2 linked regions of the Homo sapiens genome follow. The protein of the gene in region 1 purifies or fractionates together with the protein of each later gene. This does not show direct contact. Each region holds a gene or a part of one and is shown on either strand. Other genes may lie near its edges.

What was found.
Region 2: the proteins of FGD1 (region 1) and SH3PXD2A purify together in Homo sapiens (affinity purification with mass spectrometry; 3 studies listed by BioGRID and IntAct, with this or other methods). This does not show direct contact.

Annotation. Positions count from the first base shown.
Region 1 is NC_000023.11:54,492,836-54,501,515, reverse strand, and holds the start of FGD1 (FYVE, RhoGEF and PH domain-containing protein 1), read left to right. Parts: upstream 1-5,281; 5' UTR 5,282-6,083; coding exon 6,084-6,390; intron 6,391-8,680. UniProt on the Homo sapiens protein: Activates CDC42, a member of the Ras-like family of Rho- and Rac proteins, by exchanging bound GDP for free GTP. Plays a role in regulating the actin cytoskeleton and cell shape.
Region 2 is NC_000010.11:103,851,616-103,860,994, reverse strand, and holds the start of SH3PXD2A (SH3 and PX domain-containing protein 2A), read left to right. Parts: upstream 1-5,418; 5' UTR 5,419-5,728; coding exon 5,729-5,800; intron 5,801-9,379. UniProt on the Homo sapiens protein: Adapter protein involved in invadopodia and podosome formation, extracellular matrix degradation and invasiveness of some cancer cells. Binds matrix metalloproteinases (ADAMs), NADPH oxidases (NOXs) and phosphoinositides.

The sequences.
Region 1 (8,680 bases):
ATATTTTGGTTTTGGTTCTCCCCACTACCCCCATCCACAGGATCCCCAGATCACACTGTGAGAACTGCTGCTCTGGGGTATATACCTAGAATTGCCAGGTCACAGAGTATGTGCATCATTCAGCTTTACTAGAAAATGCCCAACTTTTTCTAGAATGGTTGTATCAATTTACACTCCCACCAATGGTATCCAGTGGTATCCATTCACTCTTCATCCATTCTGGTGTTCACCTCCACCACTCCTCCAAAACCACTACTATCAAGGTCATCAATGATATCAATGTTGCCATAGCCAATGGACCCTTTTAAATCCTTATCTTCTCAGCACTCTTGGAACATCCTTGACACACTCCTGGTTATGTCCCTGCCTCTTTTTTTTTTTTTTTTTTTTTTTTTTTGGGGATGGAGTCTCACTCTGTCGCCCAGGCTGAAGTGCAGTGGCATGATCTCGGCTCACTGCAAGCTCCGCCTCCCGGGTTCACACCATTCTCCTGCCTCAGCCTCCCGAGTAGCTGGAACTACAGGCGCCCACCACCACGCCCGGCTAATTTTTTGTATTTTTAGTAGAGACGGGGCTTCACCGTGTTAGCCAGGATGGTCTCAATCTCCTGACCTCGTGATCCGCCCGCCTCGGCCTCCCAAAGTGCTGGGATTACAGGCGTGAGCCACCGCGCCCGGAGCTCTTTACTTCTTTTTCAGTCTCTGCCAACTCCTGCTCCTTCACTCAACCTGTAAAGTTGAAGTTCCTCAAAGCTCAATCATGGATCCTCTTCCTTTCTCAGTCTTTACTGTTTCAGGGTGATTTTTTTCTACTCTTGACTTTTAATGCCATCTCTATGCTGACAACTCTAACTTATATCTGAAACAGACTTCTCCCCTGGGATGTATATACCACTATCTACTTGACTTCTCCACTTGGATATCTCAAGGGCATGTCCAGCTTAGCATATCCAAAACTGAACTCTTGATCTTCCCCTGAAAATCTGTTCCTCTTTCTGTCTTCCTCATCTCAGTGAGTGACTGGCCTACCATCACCAGATCCCTTGGAGTTCCCCCCTTGATTGGAATGGAATCCCTTGATTCCCCCCTCCCCCTCCTTCTCCCAAGCTTTCACACCAAGCCTTCTCAATTCTAAATATCTCTCAAATCAGTCTGCCTCTCTCCATCTCCACTGCCACCTCCTTAGTCAGCTCACCATCATCTCTGGCCGCAGTAGGTTCCTAATCTTGTCCACCTGCAATTCAATCTAGAGCAACCAAAGTCATCTTTGTAAAACGTTAAATATACCCTGTGAATCTCAAGCTTAAAACCTTTCAATGTGTATTTCAGCATTTTGGGGATGTGAGGTATCTGCAAAAGAGATACTATTTCCTCGGGATCCAGTTCACATACGATACAAACTGAAGCATTTCATGAAACATATTTACCCTTCCTACATGATCCTATGATACACTCTTTTTATTAATTAATTTATTTATTTGTTGTGTATGTGAGATGGAGTCTTGCTCTGTCGCCCAGGCTGGAGTGCAGTAGCACGATCTCGCCTCACTGCAACCTCCATCTCCCGGGTTCAAGCCATTCTCCTGCCTCAGCCACTCGAGTAGCTGGGATTACAGGCACGCTCCACCACACTCGGCTAATTTTTGTATTTTTAGTAGACGGGATTTCACCATATTGGTCAGGCTGGCCTCAAACTCCTGACCTCAGGTGATCCACCCACCTCGGCCTCCCAAAGTGCTGGGATTACAGGCGTGAGCCACCATGCCCAGCCCATTCTTATATTTTCTATTCTTAAATTGATTTCAGTACCTTCTCCAGTTTGACCCACATTTAAAAGCACTGCTTCAATACCTTTTCATTGCTTGTAGAATAAAACCCATTCTTCTTAACATGGCCTAAAAAGCCCTGCATAATCTAGCTCCTGCCTACCTTTTGAATCTCATATCCCACCCCTCTTGCCTTCCAAGCACTATGCTTTAGCCATATTAGCCTTCTATAGCTCCTAAATAGGCCATTTCTCTTTCTCCCCAGGGCCTTCCTACTTGCTGTATCCTTTGCCTGGAGCACTTTTGTGTCCACTCATCTGCCAACTCCCACTCCTTCAGGGCTCAGCTTAAATAGCAGCCCTTGCCTGACCCCTCAGGCTAAATCACACCCCCCCACACACACATACCCGTTATTCTCTTTCCTATCACCCTGTTCTGTCCCTTTATAACCTTATCACAATTTGTAATTATGTGTGTTTATGTGTTGTAATTATGTGTTTATTTCACATCCTCTCCAGTACCAGCCAATGAACTCTGAGGACAGTTTTTTCACCATTGTCTTGTTCATGTCTGTCTTATTCACTGCTGCATAGCTAGTGCATCACATGGTGCCTGGCCCATAGTTTGTGTTCAAAAGACATTCGTTGAATGAGCTGAGATCTGAAGAACAAATGAAGTGGAATTGGGGAGATGCAGAGAAAGTTTCACTCAGCGAGAACAGCATATGCAAAAACTTGGAGGCTAGAGAGACTAAGGAATAGTCTAAGAATTTCAGCACGGAAAGGCTGGCAGGGGCACAGATCATGAAGGGCCATTTAACCTTTCCTGTTAAGGAAGGTGGGTTTCATTTTGAGCCAGTAGAGACTCACTGAAGGGTCCTAAACATGGGAGTGATATAATTTGATTTAACTTTTATTTAATTATATATATATATATATATATTTTTTTTTTTTTTTTTTTTTTTGAGACGAGTCTCGCTCTGTCGCCCAGGCTGGAAGCAGCATGATCTTGGCTCACTGCAACCTCCGCCTCCCGGGTTCAAGCAATTCTCTGCCTCAGCCTCCCAAGTAGCTGGGATTACAGGCATCCGCCCCCATGCCCGGCTAATTTTTGTATTTTTGGTAGAGATGGGGTTTCACCATTTTGGCCAGGCTGATCTCGAACTCCTGACCTGAAGTGATCCACCCACCTCGGCTTACCAAAGTGCTGGTATTACAGGTGTGAGCCACCGCACCCGGCCTTATTTATGTTTTCAAAAGATATACACTGCCTATAGTGTAGAGAATAGATTCCAGAGAACAAGACTGAAATAGGGAGGCTGTGACAGTATTGCAGGTTAGAAATGGTTCTGGTCTAAACCAGGGTAGTGGCCCCAGAAATGTAGAGACTACATAAATAGATTTGGTAGGAGGTCAAAATGATGGGACTTGGTGACTGCATGGGTGATGGAGGAGAGAAAAGAATTAAGGGTGTAACCCGGGTTTCTGCTTTGACTGGGGTCATTCACTAAGGTAAGACACAAAGAAGGACAAACAGGTTGGAAGGAGGATGCCTTGAGTTGGGAAGAAGCTGAGGTTTTAGGTGTCTCTGGGATATTCAGGTAGAGCTGCCTAATAACCAGTTGAATGCATGGGTCAGGAGAAATATCTGGTTTTGAGGTATCAATTTGGGAGTCATCAGCAAAGATATGATCATTGAAGCCAGGGGAGCAAATGAGATAAAGAAAAGAGCGGCCTGTAATCCGAGGCTTCTCTTTCCTCAAGTGGATCACTTGAGGTCAGTAGTTGGAGACCTGCCTGGCCAATATGGCAAAACCCCGTCTCTACTAAAAATACAAAAATTATTCGGGCTTGGTGGTGCATGCCTGTAATGCCAGCTACTTGGGAGGCTGAGGCAGAAGAATAGCTTGAACCCGGTAGGCGGAAGTTGCAGTGAGCCTAGATCGCGCCACTGCACTCCAGCCTAGGCGACAGAGCAAGACTCTGTCTCAGAAAGAAAGAAAGAAAAAAAAATCACATGTAGAGAGAGGACAAGAGCGCTCAGGCCAAAGCCCTGAAGAGCACCAGCATAAAGCGTTGGACAAAGAGGAGCCTGGAAAGTAAAAAAAGAATTACTAAGGAAGTAGAAGAAAAACAAGGAAAGTGCAGTGTCATGGAAGTGGTTTAAGGAGGAGGGAGTGGTCAACAGTGCCAAATGCTATCAAGAAACCAAGTAGGATAACCTCTGAAAAGATTCTATGGGGGCTGGGCGCGGTGGCTGACGCCTGTAATCCCAGCACTTTGGGAGACAGAGGCCGGCGAATTACAAGGTTAGAAGTTCGAGACAAGCCTGGCCAGTATGGTGAAACCCCGTCTCTACTAAAAATACAAAAAAATAGCTGGGCGTAGCTACTCGGGAGGCTGAGGCAGAAGAATCGCTTGAACCCAGGAGGCGGAGATTGTAGTGAGCCGAGATCGTGCCGCTGCATTCCAGCCTGGGCGACAGAGTGAGACTCTTGTCTCAAAAAAAAAAAAAAAGAAAAGATTCTATGGGATTTAGTGAGATGTTTCATGGCAGACCCTGATGAGAGAGAGCAGTTTCAAGCAAGTAGTGGAGGCAGATTGGAGTGGGTTGAAAGATAAGTGGGAGGTGGGAAAATGAAGACAGTTGGGTGTAGGCAACTCTTTTGAGAAGTTTGTAGAAGAGAAGAGAAGGAGGTGGTTGGAGAGGCAGAATTCTTGGTAATTGTTTATTTGTTTTTAGATGGAAGAGGTCTATGTTTAGATGCTGTTGGGAAGGAGCAAGGACAAATTCCTAGGCTTCGTAGCAAAAAGTCAAGAGCTTCCTCTACGGTGGCTCTGTTTACTCTCTGCAGCAGGTCAGGTTATTTGCTGAGGGTTACAGGGCAGATGGAGCACTTGGGGTTTGAGGGGAAAGGAGAAGGTTTGAAATGGTCACTGTGGAGAACAGAGGGAGAGCTGACTAGTAGGGTTGTGGGTCAAAACTGAGGGCCTGGTAGAAGCTGGGAACCATGGGTTTATAGTGGCACAAATCTGTGAAGTTGAATAGTTTTCCCCAGCAATGTTTAGCTGCCTGGGCGCAGGCATGGAAAAGGCGGACAGTTGGACCGATTCAAGACTGGGATGTTGCCAGGCGGATGCGACAAATCAGGGAACTGAGGGTATTTAAGAAAGTGACTAAGTAAGGGACCAAGATATCTGGTCTGAGCAAAGTGAAGGAGAATCAGAGACAGGTCCTCTATGAGCCAAGCCCTAGGAACACTCAGGAACATGAAGAAAGGGTTTTGGAAAAGAGAGTGAACGGCAAGCAGAGGGGGGAAGACCTGAGATGGGATGGAAGGGCAGATATGGGGGGAGGGGGTTGAGCCCGGAGACTTGCCTGTGGGGAAAGCAGGCTGAGGGGGAATTTTTTAAGGGGCAGGAGGGCCTTGAGAGCGGTAGCAGCGAGAAGTGAGGCGGCCCCGAGCGAGGGGGCGTGGTCAGGCGCAAATCCCGGGCGAGGGGGCGGGGCCCCGGTAACTGGGTCCCAGTGCCGCTGTGGCTGCGGCTGCCTCTGCGAGGCTCCCGCCTCCCCACCCCCCTTCCCAGGGCTCCTTCCCGCCCGCCGCCGCCGAGACCCAGGCTGAAGCTGGGGAGGACGGTGGAGCCCGGCCCAGGCCGTTCTCCTGCCCCCGCGGCTGGAGCATCGTCTGGGACTACTGGCTGAAGGCGAGCCCCGCAGCCCAAGCGCAGCGCACACGCGCGCCCCCGGCCACCGCCGTTCTCTCTTCCCTCCCCTCCTCTCCCCTCCCCTCTCCTCCGCCCCCGGCCTCGGCTGCGGCGGGAGGAAGAACGCTTCCCAACCAGCCAGGAGAGCCCAGATCTATTCCCATTCGGGGAGAAAGAAGAGACCCCGCACTTGGATCCGACCGACTTCTCGCCCCGGGGCCACGGAAGTGGCTCGCCGTCCACCGGAGAGTCCCCGCCGAGCGTAGCCCTCCAACCCTCGCCCAACCGCAGCCGCATAGACAGCGCTCCCCAGCGGGCCCCCGGCCCCGCCGAGCCCACTCCCCGCGCGGGGCCGGGGCCGGGGCCGGCGATGCCTGGCACGGCAGCGGCGGTGGCCGCGGCTGCTGCTGCTGCTACTGCCACCGCTGCCACGGCTGCTGGCCCGGGCCCGGGCTGGGGGCTTGAGTCTCTGCAGTGGGGCTGAGCCCGCAGTCCCGCCCCCCGATCCTGAGGCCGCTGCTCCGCCGGGCGCCGGGCCTCCTCCGCCCGCGCCTCCGCCCCAGGAGCTGGAGCCAAGCGGGGAGCTCGGGCCCCGCGCCCAGGCCCGGACCATGCATGGCCACCGAGCCCCGGGGGGCGCCGGGCCTTCGGAGCCCGAACACCCGGCCACGAACCCGCCGGGCGCCGCTCCGCCGGCCTGTGCCGACTCGGACCCTGGAGCCTCGGAACCCGGACTGCTGGCGCGCAGGGGCTCAGGTTCGGCTCTTGGCGGCCCACTGGATCCCCAGTTTGTCGGACCCTCGGACACCAGCCTGGGCGCTGCTCCAGGCCACCGGGTCTTGCCCTGCGGTCCCAGTCCACAGCACCACCGGGCCCTGCGCTTCTCTTACCACCTGGAGGGCTCGCAGCCTCGGCCTGGTGAGTGAGCGACTGAGAGAGCATGGGAGCCCGGGCCACGGGCCTGGTACTGGGAGCGGGTTCTTGTTCTCGAGCCCTCTAAGCCCCACCTCGGAACAGGCTCGCTTACCTCGGCCCTTTGGGTTCCCTCAAACCCCTCCTCCTCCCCACGTCCCTTGGCCTTATGTCCAGTCCTTTCAACCTCTGTCCCCATCTCCTCTCTCTGTCCCTTGTGCCCCTCAACCTCTCCAACCCCCTTCTCCTCTGTCTGCTGAGGCTAATGGGAGAGGGAGCACTCGCGAGAAAAAGAGGGAGGATTGCAAGGCAGCAATCCTTGGATATTTGGTTGGGGAAACCAGGGTTTCGTTTGGAGAACAGAAGAAAAAAAGGAGCCTTACATTTGCCAAGCGCCTACATTGTACCAGGCACTGGACTGGGTGCTTTACATGGATTTTCATTTCAGCTTCAGGAACCCTCATGAAGTAGATACCATTAGTCCCATTTTGTAGGGAAGGAAACTGAAGCTCAGAGAAGTTAAGCAACTTGCCCAAGGTCACACAGCTAGTATGGAGCCACGATTCAAACCAGATCTGTTTGTGTCCAAAGTCTGTGGTCTTTCTGCTTCCCCAAACTGAGGCTGGAGACCATGAAAGTAATGCCAAGCCTTCTGCTTATGTGATTTTCTCCTGTACTATTCAGCAGCCCTGGAGTATGAGCGGAAAAAAAAAAAAAAAAAAAAAAAAAGAAAGACGGTGGATTGATCCAAGGTTGAGATTTTGCCAGGTGTGTGTGGCGGGAGAACAAGGGAAGGAAGGAGTAGAAGGTGCTGAGAGAGAAAGGTGGAAGAGGTGGGCCTTGGGAGTCAGGCTAGAGGAGAAGGCTGGAGGGGCTGATAGGTAGGGAGACAGCAGAAAAGCCAACAGAGGCAGAAGCCAGTTGTAGCAGGAGCTGGAGAGCTGCAGGTCCACGAGGTTGGTTGTGATGTGAAATCAGGATGGTTTCTTGGATTTGAAAAGGTGGAGCAGCTTTAAGTCAGGCTGAGGCCACAGACCACTGCCTTTGTGCTACACAGACCTGAGTGTCTGAGGAGCACAGCAGGACCTTCCCCATCTGGGGACATTCTCATACGGGCCTGAGCCCAGGAGCCACAGAAGAAGAGCAGCGCACATCTGCCCTGCCTTCCACTGGGACTGAAGGAGTTGTTAAGCCCTTGGGGGCTCCCGGGTTCACACCTCAGGCTCCACAGATCTCTGGGACCGTGGCCTTGCACCAGGTAGCAGTAGTGAAGTATAAAGCATGGGTAGGATGTGCCTTTTGGTGCCTTCATGACCTTGGGCTAGTCATGGAACCTCTGGGAGATTTCAGGGGGCTCCCTCAGTGTGGGCTGAAGATAACCAGCTGGCAACAGGCCCTTAACACCTTGGCCTGCATGTTACTTCTGCTGGCTTTCCAAACTCCCCTTGACACTGTGTAAAGCCAGTGCCTTTTTGCAGCTGCCAAAACAGGCCACAAGCACTCCCACCCCAGGACTTTTGCATTGGCTTTTCCTTCTGGCTGGAAGCTCTTCCCCTAGCCCTCCACCTGGCTTGCTCCTCGTCTTGCATGTCTCAGGTCAAATGTCACCTCTTCCAAGAGACTGTCCCTAACCACTTTAGGTAGGGCCACTTGTGAGTCTCCATCAGAGACTGTGAGTGTGCTTCCATCTTTGCACTTAGTACAATCTGAAATTATCTTATTGTATGTGTCTACTCGTTTATTGCCTATCTTCCTCTACTAGAATGTGAGCTCCATGGGGGCAAGGCGATTATATCTCTTTTGCTCACTGTTGTATCCCCAGCAACTAGCGCAGTGCCTAACACGCAGTAGGTGTTCAAGAAATCCTCATTAAATAAATGCCTAAACAGATACTAAAGAAGCACATAGTAGGCCCTCAGTAACTATTGCCTAAAAGAAGGACACCAAATTCCTGCCCTCTGGATACTCTTGATCTGAAAGTCAGTAGCTGGGCAATGTCTAGACCCCCAGTCTCTGGCCTCTGTAATCAATACAAGGTGATGATTCTGAGTATGCCTTCCCAATCCACCAATTCATTCAAATTACAAATCATAATACCCTTCCTAAACCACTCTCCTCCTCCCCAAAAAGGCAACACAGAGTTCCCAGGATCCTTTTCCCCAACGAAGTCCTTGCCTCTGTAATTGCATAGTGGGTGTCTTTTTTTTTTTTTTTTTTGATTCAAGATGGGGATTAGGAATAAGACAAGTGTCAGGGAAGGACCTGGCCTCCTATTCTAACTAATTCACTTTGTGAC
Region 2 (9,379 bases), on another chromosome or scaffold:
TAAGGGATGAAGAAAATTATTATTGCTCATGTTCTTGAAGATTTGATACTTCGTGGTTCTACTATTTCAAGAAGCCAGGATGTGTGTGGATTCCATGAGACGCTACTATATATTGGAAATAAGCCCCCTCCCCGTTTCCAAGCTAGCTTAGCTCAATTTTTAGTATTTGTAAACCAACGAGTCTTAACTAAGACATACACTATTCATATGTTAGGAGGTAAGATCATAGCAATCTGCCTAGGGCAATACCTTGTTGATGACCATCCAAATCCCAGCCAGATTCACCCATGTAGGCAAAAGCCAGCCTGCTAAGGCTTTCTGTCTCTCACCTATTGGGTAAGAAAAGAACAAACTAGAGGGGTATCTTCTGCTTTAGATAGGGCAGGGCTTGAGCTGAAGCTGGACTTGACTTTGAGAGTCTTGAATCTTTCACCTGAAAGAGACGTGTGGATTCAAACAGGACAAAGAACAGTAATTTCTATGCCATTTCTGAATAGAGAATTGAAAAAAAAAAGACAGGATAAAACCAAAACCAGATTCATATTTTTGGTTATTTGTGGCTTCAGGCTATTTTTAAAGAAACTGCCTTTGAATTCCCCCTGGTATTTTTCTTTTCTATTCTTTTTGTCTTCCAGAGGCCAACTCAGGGTTTGCTGGATTCTGGAAAATCCAGGGGATTTTGAAAAAGAAAATCTGTGGTGGTTTATCACTAAAACAGAACTATACAGGCTGATCTTTTATACCCAGATGATGCTGGCAACCCCCTCCCAGCCAGGAATACACGTCAAGGTGTGTTCAATTGTTGAGATAGACTGTATGAAACCACCCACACTCGTTCCTGAAGGTCTTAAAACACAATGCACTAGTTTGGGGGCCAGATGTCTGGTCAGGGTTAGGGATGCAGCCTGGAGTTATGGAATAATATTGTTTTCCTCTGTGAATCTAATTATGCCCTTGGCCTCTTTGGCTGTGCAAGTTCCCGGATTTCCCTCTGGTATTCCAGGGCGTGACCACTTGCTAAGGCTGGAATTTCAAGTGGTTCTATCAAAACCTGCTGCTGCACACGGACCCTCACCGGAATCCAGGCTAAGACAGGAGAGTGAGACTCTCAAGGGACCGTGTAAAGAAGCATGTTGAGATTTTGCTGATGAACTTACTGTGCTGGGTGTCAGACGGAGGCGGCTTCCACCATCTGGTAGTTTGGCAACAGGAGGGGCCTGTTAGTATGGCTAAAATTCGTGAACAGTGGGGCTGGGTGGTAGGGCAGTTCTGGGGCCATATCCTGGTCCTGTTCCCCAGCAAGGAGAGGAGAAGCCTGACAAGCAATTTACTTCCCTGGGCAGTTGGCCTTGCTGTCTGCTCCACACTCCGGTGGGACCGTCCTCAAGACACTCCCCAAACATAAGTCAATAAATATATCAGGGCTGATTTGAGAGAGAAAGGGAGTGGGGGAGAAGAAAAAGGAGGAGGAGGATGAGAAGAAGCAGAGACAGAAGCATGAGCGCTGGACCGCTTACAGTCTGTAGAAGGGCAGGTTATTCGTCCCAGGCCCTCCTGCCTGTCCCTGTGGCAGGAGGTAAAAGTGCTAAAACCACTTTGGCCAGAAGAGGGCCCCAAATTTCACTCAAATTTACACAACTCGGGGAGAGTCTTGCTAGACCTCAGTTTATGTAAGTTATCCACCACTGTACAGCATGGAAAGGGCCAGAAAGAGCACCAGAGACCCAGACGTGGGAAAGAACTTCAAGGTCACAGGCTGGTTTGTGGTTAAGCCAGGAGTAGAACCCAGGTTGGGTAATTCCTGCTCTGAGACTCCAATTCTTCTTCTTCTTAGGCATTACTTAGCCCCAGCATTATCTACAAATATCTGCTGAGATCCCAGTAATTTAAAAAGACAACCATTTATTGAGGGCCTGGCATGTATAAAGCTCTGCGCTGGGTGGGCAGGTGTGTGTGGCAGGTGACAGAGGTGCTGGATGATGGGGGTGGGGAGGGAAAGGGTGGTGTCCATGTCTAAGTTCATGGTCCTCAAGGCCTTCAAAGGCTTCTTACTGGTTTAGAAGGCACAACCTAAAGCACAGGAAAGTTAAATAACAATAAAAGATATAAATAAGGTTCAATACAGTGAAGGCTGAGCTGTCATAGGGTGATGTATGATTAGTAAACAAATGTATGATTAGCAATTGTCATTCGATTTCTGAAGAGGAAGAGAAGGTTCTCTTGTGCTTTCATATAGCCCACTGTGGTTTCCAGTACTTTCCTGCATGTTGTCTTCTTTGGGGGTGGTCACAAAGACCCTACATGGGAGAGGAGGTAGGGCGGGTTCTGCTTTAGGGGAGCTGATGGAATTTGCACGTACACAGAGGACCATGGAGACACACACGGCCTCTGCTCTAGAGGATTGTACAGTCCTCTTTATTGGGAAGTCCAGGCATCACGAGTTCATATGCTTGTGTGAATGGAGAACTGGAACCAGGGACTCCAGGGTTTGAGTGAATGCAACATTCTAGACCTGCAGGTGTGCTAAGTGTGCCCTTTAAACAAGCTCTTCTTGCCCTAGTATAGGCACATAAATGTGGAGGGGAAAGACAGCGGGCTTTGGACTAACTGGCTATGTGGCATCAAGCAACTTGCTTAGTTTTTCTTGGCCTTGGTTTCTTCCTCTGTAAAATAAGAGAAATAAATAACCTCTCTTGTCCCTTCTAGTTGGAAAGTTCTTTGATTCTAAGCATTCTACAATTACCTGTTTTCGAAAATCAGATTTTCAGGTATCAGTTTGCATCTTTATGTTGGCTTCTCTTTCCCTTACTTATCCTAAACTTAAAAAAAAATTTGCAATTATATTTTGTCATTTTTAACTCACACAATGTCCTTAGGTTGGAGTCATCTCCAGTTCATGGGCGGAGGTGGCAAAATAGGGGTTTCTCTAATCCTTTCTAGCACTAGCTCTTTGAGCAGATGTTTTCAACACAGGCCATCCTATATACCTACTGTGTGCCACGCATAGTTGGGGTATTTAATGAATGATGCACAGTCCTTGTTTCCAAGGAAACTTCCCCCAGTCTCTGTCATTTTTGGGGGATTGCCAGGCACATGTGAGGCATTCAATAAATGTGTATTGAACAGAAAGGAATTCCCAAGGCACTGTGGGAAATAAATCTGCATGAGGTTGAAATGTACCCAGAGAAGAGATAGCCTGCACCATTTCATACTTAAATCCCCTTGGACATACGGCCCCAGTACAGAAAAGACATTTTTCTCCCACAGGTAGAAATAACTTCTGCCCAGATCTTGGCACCATGGGGTTGAGTGGGGAGCACTCAGTTGCTCCCTCCAATAAAGGTAATTACGGAACAAAGGGGGAAGTTGGGAGTATGCTCAAGTCAGGCTTAAAGGCCTGAATTTATAAAATGTCAAGTTGCAGGGAGTCTTTTAGGCAGGAGAAAGGCTACCACTTTGTAGGCCGCTAGGAAGTGGGGAAGAACTGGGCCCTCTCTCCTACAAATTTATTGTGCTTGGTGTGTTCATTGTGGATCTGGGTCCGAAAGAAGGGTAATAAGGAAACCACTAGTGCTGTTTTAGATGAGCTGACTGCTTTGATTCACAAGGGGACCCAAATCAAACTAAACCCCCTCCTCTTCTTCCCCCCACAACAGCTAAACACCAGCTCCCCTCGCTGGTGGCTTCTCAGGTTTTATTAGCACTTCCAGAAGACTTTGCCATCCACAGAAGACGAGTTATCCGAGAGCCATGATGAATCTCTTCCTCACAAACTCACAGGCTGTCTTGATCCATCATCAGAGAGGACCTGGAGCTGGCCAGCACCCTCCCAAGTTCGGGAGCTCAATATGGAGGGCCCGTTCCAGGTCTACCTCTCATCCCTTCAGGGAATAATCCTTGCTCATGGAGGTAGTGCCCTGTCCTCCCATTTTCCCATCAGCTGAGCAACATTACCAGGTGCACCTTCCCCCAGGACTCCTGCTCCAACATTCACAAAGGTTTTCTGTCATCTTCTCTGACCAAGAAGCTCTGGCCTGGTGCCAAGATCTCTCACAGTCTGAGCCCCCTAGGCCCATCCATCTTTTTTTTTCTTTGTCCCGTGCCATCGTTTGGTGTCCTAGCGCCCTTCCCCAGGAAGGTTGGAGGAATAGTGGGTTACTCTGTATGGAGCAAATATGTGAATAAATAAAGCCTTAGATCTGTGCCTGGGTTCTGACAGTCTAGAGAACGCGCAGAAGAAAGTATTAATGCAATTAGGTCACAAAATTATTTGTCCTCTTTTCAGATGTTTCACATTGGTCCACAGTCACAAAGCTTTATTGTGATTGTGTAACAACTGGAGTAGTTGTGAAAACACTACCCTTTAAATGTTTGAAAGCAGAATGGGAAAAAAATGTTGAACTAGAAGGGGGGAAGCTACATTGAATTAAGTAGTAACTGTGCTCCAAGTCCAGGGACCACGGACAAGTGGCTTGGAAAGTGGGTTTTCCAGACTAGAGGGAGGGGTGAGAATGCCAGAGCCTGGGGCTCACGGTGAGCTGGCCTCCAACCGGGTGGGTTTTCCCACCATTGTATGCTCCTTTCCCTGTCGCCAGCTTGGGGAGGGTCCCCAGGGGAGCCCTGGGCTTAAGGCAGTGGTGTTATGCAGAGTCTGTAACGTTGTCATTGGTAAATGATGCACAGGGTAGTTACACAAGCCCAGATCGATGGACGACTCAGGCAACGAATCGATCACTTTTCCGGGGAGAATTCACCCTTTATGACCTGCAGAGGGTCAGGTGGTTCGTCCAAAGAGGCTCTGGCTTGAAGGATTTAAAGCTGGCCTTTTCCCCATTCCCATCTCCTCCTCGGGGGCCTGGGCAGTAACAGCCGGGTAATAAACTACTTCTCATTAAAGAGATCTGGGGGTGGAAGTTGTAGGGGGACATAAAAGTGGGGACAAAAAGGCACAAATCCGCTCCGAGGCGGAAAGCCAGGATGGGGGCGCGCGGGGCTCACTTTCCCCGCTCCCTCTCCCCCCGAAGCCACCCTGAGTTTTTGTGCCTAGCGAACTAGCCCGGTGCTGCGCCAGGCCGCTGGCTGCGCGCTGGGCTCGGGTGGGGGCTCGTCGGCCCGCCCCTGCCACTGGGGCCGGGCTGCAGCCCCCTCCCCGTCGCCCCGAGCCCCTCCCCCGGCCCGGAGCCCCTCCCCGCGCGCTTCCCCTCTCTCCCCTCCCTCCCTTCCCTTCCCTGCCTGCCAGGCCCTGCCTCCGCCTCCTGCGCCCACAGCCTCCGCCAGCGCCGATCCCCCCGGAGCCCGAGCCGGAGAGCGGCGAAGGGGAGCCGCCGGCCCCTCCCCAGGACGCTGACAGCAGGCTCCGGGGCCCCCGCCCCGTCCCCTCGCCGACGGGACACACCCCCGCCCCTCCTCTGCTCCGCCAGTTCCCGCCGGACCCACCGGGCGGCGGAGAGAGCGAGCGGGCGAGCGCAGCGCGGCGGCCGCGCGGGAGTGAAGGGGCGCGCGGCAGGCCGGCGGGGAGTCCCCCGGGGCGCACGGAGCCCGCGCGCCCTCCGGGACCCTCCCCCGTCCCTGGGCCGGACCTGTGGGCGCCGGGAGTCCGGGCAGCGTTCGGCGCGCCGGGCCGGGGTGGCGGGCGGCCCCGGGACCCCGGCAGCTGGAGAAGGAGCCGGAGCCCGGCCGGGATGAGAAGGTGACGCCGCCGGGGGCGCCACTCGCTTTGTGGGGGAAGATGCTCGCCTACTGCGTGCAGGATGCCACCGTGGTGGACGTGGAGAAGCGGAGGAACCCCTCCAAGCACTACGTGAGTACAGCCCCCGCCGACCCTGCTGGGGGTGGCCCGAGGTCCCGGGAGGGCCCCGGATGGCCCCTTGCCCCTCCCAGCTGTGAGGTCGCGAAGCTAAGCGCCCACTGGGCAGCCAGCAGCCGTGGAGTTTCTTCGCAGGGCTGTGATCTCCAGGGAAGCCTCTTCTGTCCTTCCTCCTTCGCACCCCCGCCCCCCCGGTTTCTTTTTTTGGCATTGGAATTGGCAAGTGGCTGCCCTTGTCTGTTACAACGGTGAAGTCATCTGTCCGCCTTTGATGGATGGTGGGGGGAGCTTTCGTCAACCCCTCACAGAGCAGCCCCGTCGGGAAAGCGCATCTCCTCGGCCCTCCCCAGGGGCCCTGGGCGCTCACGCTCACACAGCCCGAGATGCTTTCAGAGCTCGCCCTGGAGAAGGAAGCCTCGCGCCCTGCCTCCCACGCCAGCTCTGTCTCTGCCTTCCTAGGCCTGGGGCTGGGGGCAGAAGGAAGCCGCCGCCCCCTTGCCCAACCTCCACCCTCCGCGCTAAGCTTTGATTTCCCTCATAAAGCCATTGTGTCCGTCGGTGTGAGGAGAATTGTGGCTTTTCCTTTTATCCCTCCTCTGGACGTGACCCTTAACCGGGTTCATTTCCTCTTAAGTGATGCTCCATCTCCAGACACGAGGAGGCGAATGTTTGCTGTGGTCTCCGAGGAACCGCCCCTCCCCCTTCCTCCCCCAAACTTTAATGAGAAGGGGTTAAGGTTGACTGGGGCAGCTCCAGAGCCTATGTGACAGTTCCCCTTTCATCTCAGCCGGTCCTGTCTTCCCATCCCTCACACCTTAGGAAGTAAACACGGTGTCCTTGACCCCTCTGAGCGTCTGTGCTCCTGTACTTGAGATAGAAGAGACCCAAGCACAGAGGACTGCATGTTATTTGCAAATTGGGTATTTAGAGGAGCAGTTCCAGTGCTCAAAGCATTAATCTTAACAGTTAAAACAGGCGCTGGTTGCTGCCCTGGATTGTACATTGATCTCTGAAGTGCCTTTTCTTCCACTGTTGCAAAGGGACTGGGGTTTGTGGCAATGTCAGCCTCGGGCTACTCTTTTTGCCTTTGTCACCAGTGTAGCTCTGAACTTTGAGTTTCTTTACAGCTGAGCAAATGCGGCTGGGCTCATATGGGGAGGAGGTAAATGTGGAGGCAGGTTGACTAGGCAGGGAGGTGGGTGCCTGTCGGGTCCAGTCCCTGACACCCTTAGAGAGTTGTTTCTTTTGTGTCATCTGGTCCAGCAAGCATTTTCTGCTGCTGTTACAAGAAAGCTCTTTTTGGAGGGCTTGGGTCACCAGGTGGTCAACCTGCTCTGTGGACAGATGTCCCTTTGTATATCCCAGGGTTTATTTTTCTCAAATGTTGCAGGCTAAGTTTTAAGGGTTCTCATTTGTAGTCCTCAGCTGAGCTTGGCACTGCATTCAACAGATGGCACTCTGCTCTGAGACCCAGGCAGGTGCGTTTCCAACTCTGGATTTTAAATGAAACATCACATTTCAGCTCCCACCGATGGTGCCCAAGGTTGCAGATGCAGGACACACTGGTAACAAACTAGAACCGGGGCCCACTGCAGACAGGATTGAAAGGCAAGATTGCGTGCTGGGGTTCTGAAGTTAGACGGTCTTGCTCAAAGCCTGGCATGCAGCCAGTAACTAGCTGTGCCACCTTGGCAAGTTATTTAAACCTCCCCCAGCCTCAGTTTACTCAATTTCAAGTAAGGATAATAATAGTATGTACTTGTTGGGAGAATTAAATGAGATCATCTATGTAAAGCACTTAGCCCAGTTCCTGGCACGCAGTAAGCTCTTATTAAATGGTAGCTTATTATTGGTGAGATTCTGACTAAGAAAGTATTTTTGAAAAGCAGCTATTAATGGTCTGGCAAAAAGGAAGAAAGATTTTGGGTTTTAAGATTGATAATAACTTGTTCTATGTGAAAAACACAAAAGAAGTCCTGTCCAGTTCCCTCGAAATGATCATTTCCTTCCTTTTTACAGACAAAGTGTTTCCCGGGACATCTCCGCTTCCCGAGTAAGAATCGATGACATTATGTTTGGGGGGGCAGGGAGTGATGTCACTGAACAGATGGGGCCATGCAGAGTTCTGAACTAGAGTTCTGGAAAACACTGAGAGGAGAAAGTGTTACATGTTGTGGAATTGTGGAACGGGCAGAGACCCGAAGACTCATCTGGCTCAACTCCTTCATTTTACAGATGAGGAAATGGAGAGCCAGATTGGGTAAAGTAACTTGCAACACAGCTGCTCACAGCTGGGTTTTTTTCATTGCATGTACCCTAAGTCCAGTTGGGTTTGGCTAAGAGGACAAATAACTGGTGGTCAAAAAGTTTCTACCCATTTGGGGCATTGTATATATTAATACATAACATAAGCATATCCAATAATTGAAAGGGGGAAAGAAAGCAATAGAAAGGGCCTGGTGGGACAGACAGGGGCAGGAGGAGCGGGTTTGGGGAGGCTGCAGCCTCTTCCTCTCCTGGCCCTTGCACGGTGAATACCACACACCAAAAGCTCAAGTGTTGTGAGTAAGGCCCTCTGGTGTGGTCAGCTGGCAGGACGTGCTGCACCCATTGCCTGTGTTCTGGAAACCCTCTACACTGGAGGAGCAAGCCTCCTTCCAGCCTTTCCTCTGCTGATGGTGAATTCTGAGTCTGTGGTTTGGTAAATTGCAGAGCAGAGAGGTTTTACGGGATGTGCGTGTTAGCCAGAGCTAGCCGATGAGAGGCCTGGGGCCCACGCAGGAGGAGCTCTGCTGGCTCCAGAGTGCTGGGAACACACTGCAAAGGTTCTCTCAGGACATTCTGCAAAGGGTTTGCTCATCCCCACGGGGAGGGGGAGCTGCCTGAACACGAAGGGTCCTGTGCTTTCGGTCAGTTCATGAAGGCACGCAAGTAGCTTCCATCATGGGGATGGCACTCAGCCCTGGCTTCCTTCTTCTCTGCCAGGCCCCTGCTTGGGGTGGGGTTGAGAAGGGCAGGCAGCTGCTACTAAGGTCAGGCTCCCTGGCATGAAGCTAGGCTCCTTTCCTGGCTTTCTGAGCTGTGCCTGGGGAGACCCTAGGTAAACTGGCTTTGGCCTCTGACCGCTTGTCTTGAAAATGGTCCTGATGATGCTGGATGCAGAATGCAGATTCCTTCGTTTGAAAGTTTTTCAGTAAAGATTTGAATTCAGGTCCACCGGGTTCTTTGTGCTCACAGGCAGGTATAGGTATATATCAATTCATGTGGTAGAGAAAAGCTCGTTTATCTAAAACAAACAAGAAATTGTATCTATTTGGATTTGGGAGGTATTGCACTTTCACAGTTGTTTTATTTCCTGATTGTTTATTTCAGACAAATACCAATCATGAATGTTCTGATCCTCTGCAGGACTCTTTGGGGAATGCAAATAATAGCCAGTTTAGCAGTTACCATCGATGGTGAAACATACTTAACACTCGTGTTTTCGTGTGATTCCTGCAGGTCATTGAATGTACCCTAATGTGGGGTAGGTTTTTGGATTCTGTTTTACAGATGAATTAACTGCAACTTGGA